Regions from separate parts of the Homo sapiens genome. Here region 1 is linked to region 2. A link means that fine-mapping ties the variant in region 2 to the plasma level of a protein whose gene starts in the linked region. Region 2 holds a variant in brackets. A gene starts in the other region. All regions are shown on their forward strands. Region 1 holds the start of C1orf56 (chromosome 1 open reading frame 56). Region 2 overlaps LPL (lipoprotein lipase).

Evidence for each region. A credible set is the group of variants that fine-mapping cannot tell apart. PIP is the posterior inclusion probability: the model's chance that the variant is causal. The UK Biobank Pharma Proteomics Project read protein levels with antibody pairs (Olink). The fine-mapping took linkage between variants from a reference panel, not from the people measured, so its PIPs are less certain.
Region 1: it holds the start of C1orf56, and the variant in region 2 is the best candidate, but not a certain one, in a credible set for the plasma level of the C1orf56 protein (UK Biobank, PIP 0.80).

The regions. Positions count from the first base shown.
Region 1 is chr1:151,046,293-151,048,499 of GRCh38, forward strand. C1orf56 (chromosome 1 open reading frame 56) reads left to right here and starts at 1,459. Exons shown (of 2, transcript NM_017860.5): 1 at 1,459-2,207. The coding sequence starts at 1,556. It overlaps BNIPL (BCL2 interacting protein like), which reads left to right. Exons shown (of 10, transcript NM_138278.4): 10 at 359-1,428. The coding sequence ends at 395. RefSeq lists enhancers at 1,787-1,836, 2,117-2,207.
Region 2 is chr8:19,954,563-19,959,054 of GRCh38, forward strand. LPL (lipoprotein lipase) reads left to right here. Exons shown (of 10, transcript NM_000237.3): 6 at 1,279-1,521. Among named protein-coding and RNA genes, the nearest start is that of LPL, 18 kb to the left of the region's middle. The variant A/G (reference allele first, on the strand shown) is at 1,456.

The sequences.
Region 1 (2,207 bases), not on the chromosome of region 2:
GTATATGGGGAAACTGCACACACCCAGAGAAGAAATGAAGGACACTACTGCATCCAACAAGAATAAATGAAAAAAAAAAAAAACCTATACATATAAGTGCAGAGGCAATAAGGAATAAAGGAATAATCACAGTGCAGAGGAGATTCAGACTGGCCCTAGAAATTAGGAAGAGATGTGTTGGCAGTGAACAGATGATATCCAGTGGGGGAGAGGGTGTTAGGGAGCAAAAGTGCTAAATGATGACTCAACCCAATCATCTAGCTCTTCCAATTCACCTGGCTTCTCTCCCCAAACCAGAAAATAAAACCCAAGTCCTACCCCCTGAACCACTTCTCTCCTCCCCCTCTCCCTCTCCTAGGCTGGACCGGGATCTCCATGGCTCAGGAGGGACATAGCACAGGACTGGATAAAAGGCCTTAGAACCAGTTAGTGATCTGCCTACACCTGAATCCCTGAAACATCTGAACTGTTTTGTAAATCATCTTATCCCCAACCTCAGTACCACCGGATCTTCACTTCTCAGTGGGATTTTGTCCTTTGCATGACCCTACTTTCAGCAGGGCTTTGAGGCTGGGAAACTGATCTGCTGGGTGACTTTCATTCCAGTTGCTGGGACGGAAGGCTGAATGTAGGGTCATTTTGTATGGGATATGCAGAGCTCTGGGTTTTTTTGTTTTTTGTTTTTTGAGACGGAGTCTCGCTCTGTCGCCAGGCTGGAGTGCAGTGGTGCGATCTCGGCTCACTGCAACCTCCGCCTCCCGGTTCAAGCCATTCTTCTGCCTCAGCCTCAGCGAGTAGCTGAGACTACCGGCGCACGCCACCACGCCCAGCTAATTGTTTTGTATTTTTAGTAGAGACGGGGTTTCACCATGTTGGCCAGGATGGTCTCGATCTCTTGACCTCGTGATCTGCCCGCCTCGGCCTCCCAAAGTGCCGAGATTACAGGTGTGAGCCACCGCGCTCGGCCAGAGCTCTGGGTTTTAATCCTACTTTAGCTGTAGAACCTTGGGCAAATAACTTCATCTTTTTGGGTCCTAATTTTCCTCCTGTCTAACTGGAGGGACTGTGATCCTTCCACCTTGGATGGAAGAGGCTTACCTGACAGCCAGCCTGCCTGCTGGGAGCCAGGAGAGTCAGCTCATTAAATCTTGAAGAACCGCTGTATGCCCTTTTTCCTTCTAAGTCATGTCTGCTGCCTGTGAGCCTGGGAAGGAGTGCTTTCAAAACCTGTATTTTTGCCCTCTTTAGTAAATTTAGAACTGTAGAGGCTAATAAACTGCGATGAGACATTTAAGCTCTGCTCCAAAGAAGTGAACGACTCTTTCACCACCCCTTGCATCCCAAACCTTCGGTTCTGGCAGAGTTCTTGCCGCAGAGGTTCCTTAGGAGCACCCCGCGCGGCCCGCGCGAGCGCGCCTGCGCGTCGAACCCCACCCCCTTCCCCGCGGGCCTCGGTTCAAACGACCCGGTGGGTCTACAGCGGAAGGGAGGGAGCGAAGGTAGGAGGCAGGGCTTGCCTCACTGGCCACCCTCCCAACCCCAAGAGCCCAGCCCCATGGTCCCCGCCGCCGGCGCGCTGCTGTGGGTCCTGCTGCTGAATCTGGGTCCCCGGGCGGCGGGGGCCCAAGGCCTGACCCAGACTCCGACCGAAATGCAGCGGGTCAGTTTACGCTTTGGGGGCCCCATGACCCGCAGCTACCGGAGCACCGCCCGGACTGGTCTTCCCCGGAAGACAAGGATAATCCTAGAGGACGAGAATGATGCCATGGCCGACGCCGACCGCCTGGCTGGACCAGCGGCTGCCGAGCTCTTGGCCGCCACGGTGTCCACCGGCTTTAGCCGGTCGTCCGCCATTAACGAGGAGGATGGGTCTTCAGAAGAGGGGGTTGTGATTAATGCCGGAAAGGATAGCACCAGCAGAGAGCTTCCCAGTGCGACTCCCAATACAGCGGGGAGTTCCAGCACGAGGTTTATAGCCAATAGTCAGGAGCCTGAAATCAGGCTGACTTCAAGCCTGCCGCGCTCCCCCGGGAGGTCTACTGAGGACCTGCCAGGCTCGCAGGCCACCCTGAGCCAGTGGTCCACACCTGGGTCTACCCCGAGCCGGTGGCCGTCACCCTCACCCACAGCCATGCCATCTCCTGAGGATCTGCGGCTGGTGCTGATGCCCTGGGGCCCGTGGCACTGCCACTGCAAGTCGGGCACCA
Region 2 (4,492 bases):
CTGAGCAGTGCACTTACAGTAGCAAGAGAAAAAGGTGGGATTTTAGACAGGAAGACTCCACTGACCTCAATAATGGCATCATAAAATGCTATCTGGCCACATGTTGTCATACCTTGAATGTAGCTGCAAAGCCAATGGAAAGATTTTAGATGTTACTGGAACAGAAGATGTTAATTAGGATAAATCTTCCAAAATGTTCAGAACATAATGTTAGCTTAATGTTTTACTTTAATAATGTTAGCTTGTGTTAAATTTATGATTTTTGTTTGTTTGTTTTTTGAGATAGAGTCTTATTCTATTGCCCAAGCTGGGGTGCAGTCACACAATCACAGGGACTTGCAATGTTGCCCAGGCTGGTCTCAAACTCCTGGCCTCAAGTGATCCTCCTGCCTCAGCCTCCCAAAGTTCTGGGATTGCAGCTGTGAGCCACCACGCCCAGTTTACGATTTATTTTTAAGAGCCCCTTGCATACTTTATAGACATTGGGACCTACCTAGGATATTCTCGTTATTTTTGTGCACGTAATAGAACTTAGAGCATATTGTTACTATTTTCGATTGTCCTAAAAACTTACAAGGAATTCATTCTTATGGCATTGCTGATTATTTCTATGTTCATTTGATATAAAAGAGTGTTAGTAGGGGCAGAACCCTCAATTGTACATAATATCAATGATAAAATACAATTCATTTAACAATTACCCTCTTAAGATGTGGTTTCTAGAAATACAAATTGTCCCTAACTTACAGTTTTCCAACTTTACAATTGGGCTGTAACACCATTTTAAGTTGAGAAGCACGTGATGGTTTGACTTAAAACTTTTTGACATTATGATGGGTTTTGGGGGTATTAAGTGCATTTTGACTTACAGTATTTTTGACTTATGAAGAATTTATTGTAAGGCAAGGGGCAGGTATATGTTTCTAGAAGCACCTAGAAGTGTTAGACACTTTCAATGTAAGAGAAGGATGAGATAAACAAGGAAATCAACCTCCACCTTGGAGGCTTATTACAGCTTCATAAACATACTCATAAATATAAGAAGCACAAAAGTCAAAAATTCCCTGTGAACTTGCAACTTTCACTCTCTTGAAGGTGGGTGGGCCGCTACCACCAAGAATATCTCCTGAAATAGGGCCTACAATCATAAATGCACAGGACTATATCCTTGGGTGATTCTACTCTAACACCACATCTCACCTATTTTAGACATGCCAAATGAAACACTCTTTGTGAATTTCTGCCGAGATACAATCTTGGTGTCTCTTTTTTACCCAGATGTGGACCAGCTAGTGAAGTGCTCCCACGAGCGCTCCATTCATCTCTTCATCGACTCTCTGTTGAATGAAGAAAATCCAAGTAAGGCCTACAGGTGCAGTTCCAAGGAAGCCTTTGAGAAAGGGCTCTGCTTGAGTTGTAGAAAGAACCGCTGCAACAATCTGGGCTATGAGATCA[A/G]TAAAGTCAGAGCCAAAAGAAGCAGCAAAATGTACCTGAAGACTCGTTCTCAGATGCCCTACAAAGGTAGGCTGGAGACTGTTGTAAATAAGGAAACCAAGGAGTCCTATTTCATCATGCTCACTGCATCACATGTACTGATTCTGTCCATTGGAACAGAGATGATGACTGGTGTTACTAAACCCTGAGCCCTGGTGTTTCTGTTGATAGGGGGTTGCATTGATCCATTTGTCTGAGGCTTCTAATTCCCATTGTCAGCAAGGTCCCAGTGCTCAGTGTGGGATTTGCAGCCTTGCTCGCTGCCCTCCCCTGTAAATGTGGCCATTAGCATGGGCTAGGCTATCAGCACAGAGCTCAGAGCTCATTTGGAACCATCCACCTCGGGTCAACAAACTATAACCCTTGTGCCAAATCCAGCCTACTTCCTGCTTTTGTAAATAGTTTTTTTAAAACTTTTAAGTTCAGGGGTACGTATGTAGGTTTGCTAAAAAGGTAAACTTGTGACATGGGAGTTTGTTGTCCAGAATATTCCATCACCCAGGTATTAAGCTTAGTACCCATTAGTTACTTTTCCTGAAGCTCTCCCTCCTCCCACCCTCTGGGAGGCCCCAGTGTCTGTTGTTCCCCTCTATGTGCTCATGCAAAGTTTTATTAGGACACAGCCACACACATTCATTACCATATTGTCAAAGGCTGGTTTCATGCCACCATAACAGAGTTGATAGCCCACAGAGCCTAAAATATTTACTCCCTGGCCCTTTACAGAATGTTCACAACTTACATAAAGGCAAGGACCATCTGTCTTATTTATTTATTTATTTAATTTGAGATGAAGTCTAGCTTTCTCCTAGGCTGGAGGAGAGGGGCATGATCTTGGCTCACCACAACCTCTGCCTCCCGGGTTCAAATGATTCCCCTGCCTCAGCCTCCGGAGTAGCTGGGATAACAGGCATGCACCATCATGCCCAGCTAATTTTTGTATTTTTAGTAGAGAGGGGGTTTCACCGTGTTGACCAGGCTGGTCTCGAACTGCTGACCTCAGGTGATCTGCCCTCCTTGGCCTCATCTGTCTTTTTAAATGCAACTATTCCTGGAAGGCAAGAATATCTCACACCTTCTAAGATACTGCCATTTTGCCAGGAGTTTGTTTCACACTTGAATTTCAAGCTTGGCCTCTTGTTTAGAGGCAGACCTAAAGGAATGGTCGGAAAATGAGAGAGGAGGTCTTCGGATAAATCCGGTGAGAGGGACCAACTTCAGGAAGGGTGGCTTTTGTGGAATCCAGATGGAAACCTGAGGGAAGGGATGATATTAAAGAACAGTGGCCCCAGGTAAAACATATGGCACCCATGTGTAAGGTGATTCTTAGAATCTGTAGAGGTGTCTTTCGTGGTATAGAGGTTGAGGCACCTGTGCTTCAAGGAAACCTTAACTCTTCAAAATCAGGCAATGCGTATGAGGTAAAGAGAGGACTGTGGGACCATAATCTTGAAGACACAGACAGGCTTCACTCATCCCTGCCTCCTGCACCAGTGGGTTCAAGGCTCTGTCAGTGTCCCCTAGGGGCACCTCACCACTCCCAGCTTCTTCAGCTCTGGCCTGTCCTGCTGCCTGCAAGGGTTTTGCTTAATTCTCAATTCAATGTCTCTTCATCTTTTAGCAGCTGTGGGGTTTTGTTGTTGTTCTTCTGTTTTTGCTTAGTATCTGACTACTTTTTAATTATAAAAAGAGATGTATCTAAACAAAATAGAGATTGTTATCAGAAGTTCACAACATTTATTAAAAATTTTTTCACCTGGACAAGAGTCTAAAGCAGCATAAAAATATGGTCTGCTATATTCTAAACCATCAGTCTTAAGAGATCTGTGTCTCAGCTTAAGAGAAAATACATTTAATAGACAGTAACACAAATAAGAAAAAAATCTGACCAAGGATAGTGGGATATAGAAGAAAAAACATTCCAAGAATTATTTTATTTATTTATTTATTTATTTATTTATTTATTTATTTATTTATTTTTGAGACACAGTCTCGCTCAGTTACCCAGGCTGGAGTGCAGCGGCGCAATCTTAGCTCACTGCAACCTCTGCTTTCCGGTTCAAGCGATTCTCCTGCCTCAGCCTCCTGAGTAACTGGGATTACAGGCACCCGCCACCACGCCCAACTAATTTCTGTATTTTTCTTAGTAGAAACAGGGTTTCACCATGTTGGCCAAGCTAGTCTCAAACTCCTGACCTCAGGTGATTCACCCACCAAGGCCTCCCAAAGTGCTGGGATTACAGGCATGAGCCACCATGCCTGGCCTCCAAGAACTCTTTTTTCCTCCATCATCATGGTTCTATTTTAGTCCTGCTGCCTTTCCTTTTAACCTCTCCCCAGGCCCATTTGCTCAGGGTTTTTGGTAGAGACCAGAGGAGGGGCAGGGAGGAGATATAGAAGTTCAACTACCTGCTTCCAGAGGCTGTCCCTAGTATAGAATACTTTAGGGGCTGGCTTTACAAGGCAGTCCTTGTGGCCTCACTGATGGCTCAATGAAATAAGTTCTTTTTTAAAAAAAATTTTATTTATTTCCATAGGTTATTGGGGGAACAGGTGGTGTTTGGTTACATGAGTAAGTTCTTTAGTAGTGATTTGTGAGATTTTGGTGTGCCCATTACGGAATGGAAAAATCAACGAAATAAGTTCTATGATGCACCTACTAGACACCTAATCTGCGCTAGATGGTGGGGGAATTAAGAGCATGGGCATGATCCTGTGACCGGAAGCCCGCTTACAGTCAGGGTGGAGGACAGACCTACTCATGAAACAAACACAGTGACATATAGTGACACAGAAGCAAATGTCAAATATGCTTGCTCCAGATGCTAAGGCACAAGATGGCCAAGGATGGCGGAGTTCATGGAGAAAGCATCATGAGTGTTTTGGCCTTCTGATTTGATCTCCCTAGCACCCCTCAAAGATGGCTACTTCCTAATGCTGCTTGGCAATTCAGACACATTTGGGTTTTTCCTATGCATATAACCACACTTTTCTGAAA